Homo sapiens: one gene and its partners. The protein of the gene in region 2 purifies or fractionates together with the protein of the main gene of each other region. This does not show direct contact. Each region holds a gene or a part of one and is shown on either strand. Other genes may lie near its edges. The genes, in order: CASC3, RTP3 and MOV10.

Region 1 (3,721 bases), on a different chromosome or scaffold from region 2:
CTTGCCACAATAAAGCAGTTTTTTAAAAAAATGCCTCTTATTCCTAGTTGTTTCCTTACTGTCTCGTCTCTAATTTTTCAATGCATCCATTCCCTTGATGCTTCTAACTTCTGCCTATCAGTCCTTTCTCACATTCACTTTCTTCTCTCTCTAGACTCCATAGCTCATTCATTTCAATCACTACTAGTAACATCCCATTTCTCTTGCCACTCCCATATGCCTGGAACTGGATCAATTCAAATGTCTGCTTTCTCCAGGCCTACAACAGACTACTCCATTGCCAAAGGGGGTTACACACACACACACACACACACACACACACGCACACACTCTTACTTTTTGAAGCAGATGTCATTCTTTTGTTTTTTTCGAGAGTCTCACACTGTTACCCAGGGTGGAGTGCAGTGGTGCAATCATAGCTTGCTGTGGCCTCGACCTCCTGGGCTCAAGGGATCCTCCCACTCCAAGCTCCCAAGTAGCTGGGACATAAGCACACATCACTGCGCCAGGTTGATTTTTTGTAGAGAGAGGGTCTCACTTTGTTGCCCAGATTGGTCTCAAATTCCTGGGCTCAAGCAATCCTCCTGCCTTGGCCTCCCAAAGTGCTTGGATTACAGGTGTGAGCCACCGTGCCTGTCCTGCTCTATCCTTCTATTTCACAAAAACAAAACACAGAAAGGAACGCTAACTTCCTTTCCTTCCCACTTCTTTGTAATTACAATGGAAGATACTTCTCATCTGGTTCCTACATCTTCTCATGTACTTAGTCAAGAATACCAGTACTTAATATTATTATCTATTCCCTCTTTTTTTTCCCTTTTTTTTGAGACGGAGTCTCGCTCTGTCGCCCAGGCTCAAGTGCCCGCCACCATGCCCGGCTAATTTTTTGTATTTTTAGTAGAGACGGGGTTTCACCATGTTAGCCAGGATGGTCTCGATCTCCTGACCTCGTGATCTGCCCGCCTCGGCCTCCCAAAGTGCCGGGATTACAGGCGTGAGCCACCGCACCCAGCTTTTCCCTCCTTTCTAATCTTCCTTTGCACATACCTTTCCTTCCCACTTCTCTGTAATTACAATGGAAGATGTTAATCTTGTCTGGTTCCTACTTTTTCTCATATACTCAGTCAAAAATACCAGTACTCAATATCATTATCTATTCCCTCTCTTTTTTCCCCCTTTCTTTTCTTTTTTTCAATCTTTGACCTTATTTGATACTCTCCTAACTTTTTAAAAAACATCCAAATCACCTCTTGATCTCAAAGCTACCTCTCCAACTACCATCTCTTCAGCCTTCCCTCAGTCAAATTTCTTTAACAAGTTTTTTTGGCCAGGCACAGTGGCATGAACCTATTGTCTCAGCTATTCAAGAGGCTGATGAGGATTGTAAGTTCAAGTTCAAGCTCAGCTTGGGCAAAATAAGGAGACCCATTTGCCAAAAAAAAAAAAAAAAGAATTCTTGGAAGACTCTCAGAAAATGGCAGTGGCACAGTTTTATCTCTCTTCAAATCTCCACATGGAATGAGAGCTCTGGACAGCAAAACCGAGACCCAAACCAAAACCCTGGCCAGACACAGTGGCTCACGTCCATAATCCCAACACTTTGGGAAGCCGAGGTGGGTGGATCACCTGAGACCAGGAGTTCGAGACCAGCCTGGCCAACATGGTAAAACCGCGTCTCTACTAAAAATGCAAAAATTAGCCAGGCATGGTGGCACGCACCTGTAATCCCAGCTACGCAGGAGGCTGAGGCACAAGAATAGCTTGAATCTGGAAGGCAAAGCCACTGCACTCCAGCCTGGGCGACAGCAAGACTCTGTCTCAAAAAATAAAAAAGAAACCAAAACCTTCAGACAACACTGCAACAAAGTTAAGTTACCAGGTATCCCCCAAGACCCAAAATGTAAGTGCATAACAAAGCACCAACAGCTGTAGGACCTGTATAGTACTGGTGTCCACGCAGGAGAAAGCAGAGAGAAAGCAAATGGACCTGAGAACAGGAGAACACTGAAATAATCAACAGGCAGTCAAGGGAAAGCACAACAGTCAAAACTGAGAACAGCACTTACAACTAGCAAGGGGGCCACACACGGTGGCTCATGCCTGTAATCCCATCACTTTGGGAGGCCAAGGTGGGTGGATCATCTGAGTCAGGAGTTCGAGACCAGCCTGGAAAACATGGTGAAACCTCATCTCTACTAAAAATACAAAAATTAGCTGGGCACGGTGACACACGAGGTCCCAGCTACTCAGGAGGCTAAGGCAGGAGAATCGCTTGAACCCAGGAGACGGAGATTGCAGTTAGCTGAGATTGCGCCACTGCACTCCAGTCTGGGCGACAGAGTGAGACTCTGTCTTAAAAAAAAAAAAGGTCTGAAGGGATGAAGCTGACCTGGCTGCCAGGGCTTCCTTCTGGGGACAGGGCCCTACACTGTCCCTAGAAGGGAGTTCCTAGAAGAGAAACTGTTGAGAGCAGGACCAAATTCAGTAGGACAGGGATGGTCCAGAACAAGCTGGGAAAGGGAACAAAAGCAACAAATCTCAGAAAGCAAGCCACCATATTTCTCACCACCACAGAAAAACAACAGAAGCAGCTCTGTGAAGTTAGAAAAAGCTATTCTAAATCATGCTTCCTTCGAAAAGACCAGGAAAACTAATTTTACATAAAAATGAACAGAAAATACAGAAGTTAAATCCCATAAAGTTATAATAAGAAAAAATAATAGCATTCCTACAGACAATGAAAGCATGCCAGAAAGACATCCGCATATCATATCAAAATTGCAACTTCTATTTCAAAATAAGCTAAAAAGACATTAAGAAAATTATATAAGGCATGAAAGAACATCAATCAGAATTGGAAAAACTCAAAAATGAAATGAGAACTCAGAAAGGTATGAGCAATTAGGAATCAAAAACTATTTACCAGGTATCACCACCTAAAAGTCCCACACCTTCTCGATCTCAAAACATCCAAAACCTAACCCACAACTGTCCTTCCAGAACTCTTCTCCTGGGGTCCCTTCCTTAACAGTTAACACCATTCAACACCATTCATCAACCTGCACATTCCTTTGACTCCTTTTTCTTTTTCTGAGTCAGGGTCTCACTTTGTTGTCCAGGCTGGAGTGCTGTGGAGTGATCACAGCTCTACTGCTTTGACCTCCCTGGGCTTAGATGATCCTCCTGCCTGAACCTCCTCAGTAGCTGGGACCACAGGCCTGCGCCACCAAGACCGGATAATTTTTTTTTCTACTTTTCTTTTGTAGAGACAGGATTTTTCCATGTTGCCCAGGTGGGTCTCAGGCTCCTGGGCTCAAGCAATCCACCTGCCTCAGCCTCCCAAAATGCTGTGATTACAGGCATGAGCCAAGGTACCTGGCCTCCTTTGACTCCTTAATTTAGGTTCCACATTCAATCAATGAAGGGGTTGTTAGTACACTAGAATCTCTCTCTAATCTGTCCCACATCTTGCCATTCCAACAAGTATGAACCTTCTTTAGGGGCACCATCGTCATGCTCCTTGGACTATCCTAACAACCTCTAAACAGCTCTTCTGCCTCTAGTCTTCCTTTGTGCCTCACCCACAATTCATCCCCCACATTTAAGCCTTCAGTGGTACTTCTTTCCTAGCCATTAGGAAAACATCCAAACTCCCTTACATATAGAATGGTAAGCTGCTATAAATTCACAATCCCCAAAACTCAATGAACACTCCATATTG
Region 2 (4,498 bases):
ACATTCTCTCCTGAGGCCCAGGGCTTAACTACCTCCTCCACCTTGTAAATGGAGTGTACTCTTGGGGTCTGAGATGGGGGGAGGCTTGTAACCTGTATGGGCCCAGCACAGAAGCCCTGCAGACATGCCTCACAGTTGTCACTATTGTGTGGCCCTTCAAGAGAGATGTCCTTGATCATAGGAACCTCCTCTATCAACTGAAATCTTCCTCTATAGCATTTCTTCAGAATTCGGAACACCAGGTTTTTCAGGATCCTTGAGATGTTCTCTTGTGTGAACTCAGGGTCCTCAAACAGAGGTTGGGGGCACTTCTTACATCTCTGGGTAAACACCCTCATCTTCACCTGGCCCCTGGACTTCTCCTCACTCCAGTTCATGTGGAAAAGGACCAGAACTTGGGCAGAGGCCCAGTTACGAGAGCAGGAGGAGCACTGGAACCTGTGGAGACAGAAGAGAGTCTCAGCCTGGCTCCATGTGACCAAATCACGGGGAACTGCCAGAGAGAGAAAGGAGCTACCGACTGCACAGAGACATGACTTGACTGGGGCTGTGGCTCAGTGGTGGAAGAAATTGCTAAGACCTCTTTCCCATCTCCATTGTGCCACTGACACACTGCATGCTGCACAGTGTCTGCTATGAAAACAGTGAATTGCAAGCTGTTAGATCTGGGAGGGACCTTGGGCATCTTCTAAGTCCAACACGTCCATTTTAGAGATGAGGCACACTCTGGAAACTCCTCATGTCCAGAGACCCAGTGGGTGTAAAAAGGCATGACTGGGACTGTGGTCTCCCTATTCCAAAGCAAAGCTTCTTCAAATGTAGATTCAAATGGGTCAGAGGCCACAACTGCAACAGCAGCCAGTTCAGTTCAGGACCCTGAAATCCACAAATGCCTATAGGTGGGTGTTGATTAAGTTATAGACTCATGGGTTGGCGGTGGGAGCCTGAAGTGTCCAGGGTTCTCCTAGAGGAAAGCCTTTGCCTTTCTCTTGGCTGCCGAGGGTCCCTGGTCTGCGGTATTGCAGGGAGATCACAGTGTCCAGCTCTCTCTTCATTTGTTTCCCCTCCAACCCAGTTCCCTTGCTCAAGGTAGCCTGGAAAACTTCATATTCTGAATGCCACTGGCTTCAGACAGGATACAAGATAATACACCTTGTCTCAGCAGGGAGGAGGGCAGTTTTTGAGCTAAGGTATCTGGACAAATACATGTCAGGAGGTAGAGAGAGAAGAAGGCAGGAAGCACATGGCTGCACCTGGGAAAGGAATTATGGGAGAGGCAGAGAGCTGCACTGTGGCGGAGACATTTAATGCTCACCAAATTATCCATGCACTCCCTCCCACTTCCCAGCCCCTTTGCCGTGAGGCTGGGGCCATGGGACCAGTTGGGCAATGAGATGAGGCCAGCAGTGATATATGTTCCTTCCAGATATGGTCACAGAAGCCTTGGTAAGACATTCCAGCTCTCTCCTCCTCTGCTTCGGTGACCTTGGGAGCCACGTGTAAGGTTAAATCAGTGATATTTCCAGGTTTATTTGTCACTGTGGCTGAGCCCCCGATGCCTGGATACAGAGAAATTAGGCTGCAGGTGGTGAATTGGAGGGGGCTGGGAAGAGGGAGTTAGTCCAGGGTGTGCTCCTGTATCTTGACTCTAGCCGCAACCCACAGGGTGAATGCAAGGTTGAAATGAGAGGGAGAGGCCAAGAAGCTGTGATCACTGTGAGAGGACCTTGCTGGGAGTCACCCAGAGTCAGCAGTGCAGAGGGGCCTGGGCCCTGTTCTGAGCAGAAGTCCACTGCCATCCCCTGGGTCTCAGTGCTCTGTTCCTGTGCTTGTTCAGAGTTCAAACTTCCCATGGATAAATGGACTGAGACTTTGGTGCAATGCTCCCTATGGCAGCTCCTGGCCTGGGATAGCCATAGGCCAGTGGGAGAGCTCTGCCCCCTCTATGTAGACTCTCCCTGGGAGGGGACAGCGGGTGGGACCCGGCCTCCACCCTCTGTGCACTGTGGGCAATCAGCCCCAAGCCTTGGGGCTCCCCATTTCCACCTGGGAAAGAGAGGATGAGGCTTAGGATGATTTCTAAGACTCCTATTTTAAAAAGATTCTATCAGCTCAGAGTAGAGAGGGGCAGGATTGCTGCCTGTTGCCCAGGCCCCCTGCTCCTCCGGCCTCCCCCGAGGGTGTCTGCTCAGTGCCGTGAGTCTCTCCTCCTAGGGGCTCCAAGGTGGGTCCAGCAGTCTCCCTAGGCATGGGGCACATGCACCGCCCGTGGGTGCAACAGCTGCCCTTCCTCCCCTCCCCTTTCCTGGCTGCTCCCTCTCCCCACCCCCACAGACTGATTTCTCTGTATCCAGGCATTAGCTCACAAGGGTGCTCAGGCCTGCTCTTGCTTTGGGGTTCATTGTAATAGTGAAAAAACGATCTTTAATGAAGTTACAACTTCTTGGATGATGGGCATCTTATTACCCATAGTCTTCAATTTGAAAGCACAGAATAGAACAAGAAAAGTAACAGGTATACCTAGTAAGAAATGTGCAAGAATTTTCTGGAACGTGTACCATCACATTCCCCCTCACCTGGCGAAGGTCCACTGCTGGTATTGCATCCAGCCTGGCTTCAGGACGTTGGGAAGAAGGCCCTTGTCTGGTCTCAGGGTCCACCTGTGCCATGGCTTCACCTCCCGCATTAACTCCTGAAACATTTGCTTCCACACTTCTGTGTCCCCAGCCATCTCTGGGGCTATGGTGTGCCTGGGTGGGTCGAGCTCTCCTGGGCCCTGGCAGGTCTGTAGTGGGAGATGAGGTTTCTGACTTCAGAGGGCAAGGACTCAGACCTGCCCTCCCTTTGAGGACCTGGATTGGGCCCATGAACCATGTCTCTGCCCCAAGGACAAAGGTCAGTTGGCTCCAAGTTCAGAGGATGGCACTAGGCTCCACAAGGAATTTCAAAAGACACAGAACTTGTGATTTTATTCATCAAAATGTTGCCAAAGAAGAGCTCTAAACTCCAAATCAGGAGGAGTGAATTTCAGTCTGGCTCCGCTGTCTACCTGCCTGTGACCTGGAACACATCTTTTCACTTCCAGCACCACTGTAAACGGTGGAGACAGGCTACAGGTGTTCTTTCCAGTTCTAACATTGGAAAATCCTTCTCCATCAGGCTGCTGTGCTCATGCTGGGGAGGAGAGGCACAGGGAAGAAGGATGAAGTGGTCCTGGGACCTCAGCGGGATTCGGATTCCCATGTCCTTGCTCCATGCTCTTTACGTTCCGGCAGACAGCCAAGGCTGCCCACCCATGAGAAACCAAAGCTGATGCAATCACTGTTTGCCCAGGCGACAGGTACAAGGGCACAGGTCGGTGAGAGGCCATTAGCCCTAGGCAAACCCAGAGTCACTGCCCTCCTTCCTGAGGGGGTTCTCCATCCTCTGCTTCCTGCAAGAGAGGATTGAGGAGGAAGAGGGGAGATTAGGGAGTGGGTACTGGAGTGGGCAACACTCCAGGAAGGTGCACAAGACTCTGGGTGTCCGCATCCCAAGACCCGTCCACAAACTGCATGTGTCTTCCTCGGGGCCAGGCACTGACCTATGTCCCTGGCCACCTCCCAAGAGGAGGAGAGGAAGGAAGGGAGCAGAGCAGGAAGGAAAAAGGAAAGGAGGCTGGGGATGCAGGGGGATGAGGAGGTCTTCCAGGGCAGTTGGAAACAAAGCCACCTCCTTCCTCCTCTCCAGCCCAGCTGCCTGCAGCTCTTGCCCTTGGGTTTAGCTCCTCGGCAGGCTCAAGTCCTGGGTCTCCCCTCTTTCCAAGCCAGTTTTGTTTCTCAGCATTAGAGCTGTCCCTCAGTTCCAGGTGGATTGGTTCCAGCGCCCCCTGCAGATAGCAAAATCCTCAGATGCTCAGGTCCCTTATACAAAATGACATAGTATTTGCATATAATCTATGCACATCCTTCTGTATACTTTAATTGATCTCTAGATTACTTATAATACCTAATACAATGTAAATGCTATGTAAATAGTTGTTACACTTTATTGATTTTAAACTGCTAACTAAAAATAAGTTCCTAAGCCCCCAAACCAACTGAATGGACTAGCTTTTGGCCAAGGGGACCCCTGAGAAACCTGAAAAACTAAATTCCCAGCTATGACAGGAGGGGAGGTTGGAAACACCTTATCATACTCCCTCCCTTTGACTTTAGGGACAACTCACCAGCATCAAGGTTAAAACAGAGATCATAAGACTGACAAAATAGACTGCTTGTTGCAATCAGATAACCAATTTATAAACAAGACCTAAGGCTATGCATGGTAAAAGTTATGCCCTACAAACCATAATATCTCATTAAAGGGAGTTTTATTAACCTGGTATAATGGAGCTACTTTCCAACCTGACTCTGGTATAGCATCGCATGACAGAGAGCAGACTCCCTTGACTTTGGCATTCCTTTTGCTGACTTCATCTGTATACAAGGCTTAAGTCATTGCTACATCCCGAAAGAGA
Region 3 (3,500 bases), on a different chromosome or scaffold from region 2:
AGAAGAGTCAAGTATTGCCATCTTTTGGGAAAACAATCTGGCAACATCTACAAATATTTAAAATACAGGTATCCTTTAAAACCCAGGGACTGTCCGGGCACGGTGGCTCACGCCTGTAATCCCAGCACTTTGGGAGGCTGAGGCGGGCGGATCACCTGAGGTCGGGAGTTTGAGACCAGCCTGACCTGCATGGAGAAACCCATTTCTACTAAAAATAGAAAAAATTAGCTGGGCATGGTGGCAGGCACCTCTAATCCCAGCTACTCAGGAGGCTGAGGCAGGAGAATCGCTTGAACCCAGGAGGCGGAGGTTGCAGTGAGCTGAGTTCGCGCCATTGCACTCCAGCCTGGGCAACAAGAACCAAACTCTGTCACAAAAAAAAAAAAAAAAAAAAAATCCCAGGGACTGGGCATGGTGGCTCACGCCTCTAATCCTAGCACTTTGGGAGGCTGAGGTGGGAGGATCACTTGAGCCCAGGAGTTTGATATCAGCCTAAGAAACATAGCAGGTCCCTGTCTCTACAAAGAATTAAAAAAAAAAATTAGTCAGGTGTGGTGGCACACCCCTGTAGTCCCAGCTACTCAGGAGGCTGAGGTGTGAGGATTGCTTGAGCCCAGGACTTTGAGGTTACAGAGAGCTATGATTGCAGATCTGCACTCCAGTCTGGGCAACAGAGCAAGACCCTGACTCAAAAAATAAAATAAAATAAAATTTAAATTTAAAAGATAAAACAAAACCCCACAAAACCCAGTAACACTGTTCCTGGAATGTGTCCCATGGGAAGAAAAGTACCAATGTATAAAGACATATGTGCAAGGATACTTACTGCAGAGTCACTCACAGTGGTCAAGAATTGAAAATTAAACAAATGCCCATCAACAGAGTGAAAGGTGAACACATTGTAAGCACTCATACCGTGGGATATTATGCAGCCATTGAAAAGATGTACCACACCCACTCAAATGGCTAACATTTAAAAGGCTCACAATACGAAACACTGGTAAGGATACGGAACAACCAGGCCAGGCACAGCGGATCATGCCTGTAATCCTAGCACTTTGGAAGGCTGAGGTAGGAGGATCACTTCAACTGAGAAGTTCAAGACCATCCTGGGAAACATAGCAAGACCCTGTTTCTACAAAAAAATTAAGAAATTAGCTGGGCCCTTGAGGCTGCAGTCTGCCACAATTGTGCCACTGCACTCCATCCTGGGTGACAGAATGAGATTTTGTCTCAAAAAAATAAAAAATACAACAACCCAAACTCTCATGCATTGTTTGTTGGTCTGTAAAATGGTTTAAGCACTTTGGGAAAAGGTCTAATAGTTCCTTGTAAAACTAAACATATGCCTATCCTATGACTCAAAAATTCCACTCCTAGTTACATCCCAAAAGAAATTAAAATGTAAGTCCACAAAATGACTTGTATAAGATGTTCCTGGCTGGGCACGGTGGCTCACGCCTGTAATCCCAGCACTTTGGGAGGCCAAGGCGGATGGAACACTTGAGGTCAGGAGTTCGAGACCAGCGTGGCAAACACAGTGAAACCCCGTCTCTACAAAAAAAAAAAAAATTAGCCAGGCGTTGTGGCAGGCACCTGTAATCCCTGCTACTCAGGAGGCTGAGGCGGGAGAATTGCTTGAACCTGGGAGGTGCAGGTTGCAGTGAGCCAAGATCATGCCATTGCACTCTAGCCTGGGCAACAGAGCAAGACTCCGTCTCAAAAAAAAAAAAAAAAGATGTTCCTAGGAGCTTCATTCAGAAGAGCCCCAAACTAAAAACACTGTCCATAAACAGGGGAATAAATATACAAACTGTGATTTGGATTCATACAATGGAATACTACTAAGTGATAAAAAAGAAACTACTGATACATTGTGGATGAATCTCAAAAACATTACGCTAAGTGAAAGTTGCCTTACACAACAGTACATACTATATGATTCCATTAAATGAATTTCTAGAACAGGTACTGTCATGAAAAAATCAGAGCAGTGGTTGCTTCTGGGTGAGTAAGAGTGAGGACTGACTAGGAAAGGGCACGAGGGAGCTTTCTGGAGTGATGTGATGTTCTGTACCTCAACAGGCGTTTGCACACAGATATATGCATTTGTTAAACCTCACAGAACAGTACACTTACAATTTGAACATTTTGCTGTTTGCAAATTTTGCTTAAAGGCCCGGCACAGTGGTTCATACCTGTAATCCCAAAAGTTCAAGACCACCCTGCACAATATAGACAGACCCCATCTCCACAAAAAATGAAAAATTAGCTGGGCATAGTGGCACACGCCTATGGTCCCAGCTACTCAGGAGGCTGAGGTGGGAGGATAGCCTGAGTCTGGGAGGTTGAGGCTGCAGTGAGCTATGTTCATGCCACTGTACTCCAGTCTTGACAACGGAGCAAGACCTTGACTTAAAAAAACAAAAAACCAAAACCCAAACAACAACAACAAAAAACCCATGGCCGGGCGCGATGGCTCACGCCTGTAATCCCAGCACTTTGGGAGGCCAAGGCGGGTGGATCACCTGAGGTCAGGAGTTCAAGACCAGCCTGGCCAACATGGTGAAACCCCGTCTCTACTAAATACAAAAAATTAGCTGGGCATGGTGGCGCATGCCTGTAGTCCCAGCTACTTGGGAGGCTGAGGCAGGAGAATTGCTTGAATCCCAGAGGCGGAGGTTGCAGTGAGCCAAGACTGCGCCATTGCACTCCAGCCTGGGTAACAAGAGCAAAACTGTCTAAAAAAAAAAAAAAACCCATAAACAATTTTTTTTTATTTCTAGGCAAACATAACATAAATTTTGAACTCTAGCTGATAATAATCACGCTAAATAATTAATAATAATTTGTTGGAGTGAAGTGTACTGATGTCTGTAACTTATTTTGAAATGCATCAGGAAAATTAAGATGACTTGCTAAATGAATAGCGGGATGGATCTATGGGCAGATATGTGTAAAACGTTAAAAGAAATCTAGGTAAGGGTATGTGGATGTTCACTGTAGATTCATTTCAACTTTTCTTTATGTTTAAAATTTATTATAGTATGATATTGGGGAAAAAATCCCAACAATGCATTAGAGGTCTATGCCATATGCCTACGAGTGATTCCCATCACACAGTTGAGAGAGTAGGACGTGGATGATGTGAATAACATGATTCTTTTGACAGAGTCTTGGTCTGTCGCCCGGGCTGGTGTGCAATGGCGCCATCTTGGCTCACTGCAACTTCCGCCTCCCGGGTTCAAGTGATTCTCCTGCCTCAGCCTCCCGAGTAGCTGGGATTACAGGCGCCCGCCACCACGCCCAGCTAATTTTTTGTATTTTTTAGTAGAGACGGGGTTTCGCCATGTTGGCCAGACTGGTCTCAAACTCCTGACCTCAGGTGATCCACCCGCCTTGGCCTCCCAAAGTGCTGGGATTACAGGTTTGAGCCACTGAGCCCGGCCAAACATGATTCTTTTTAAATAAAACAATGACTAAAAAAACCACCCTGATTG

What was found.
Region 1: the proteins of RTP3 (region 2) and CASC3 purify together in Homo sapiens (affinity purification with mass spectrometry; one large-scale study listed by BioGRID and IntAct). This does not show direct contact.
Region 3: the proteins of RTP3 (region 2) and MOV10 purify together in Homo sapiens (affinity purification with mass spectrometry; one large-scale study listed by BioGRID and IntAct). This does not show direct contact.

The regions. Positions count from the first base shown.
Region 1 is NC_000017.11:40,147,017-40,150,737, reverse strand, and holds part of CASC3 (protein CASC3), read right to left. Parts: intron 1-3,721. UniProt on the Homo sapiens protein: Required for pre-mRNA splicing as component of the spliceosome. Core component of the splicing-dependent multiprotein exon junction complex (EJC) deposited at splice junctions on mRNAs.
Region 2 is NC_000003.12:46,496,296-46,500,793, reverse strand, and holds the start of RTP3 (receptor-transporting protein 3), read right to left. Parts: upstream 2,819-4,498; 5' UTR 2,732-2,818; coding exon 2,577-2,731; intron 439-2,576; coding exon 1-438.
Region 3 is NC_000001.11:112,681,159-112,684,658, reverse strand, and holds part of MOV10 (helicase MOV-10), read right to left. Parts: intron 1-3,500.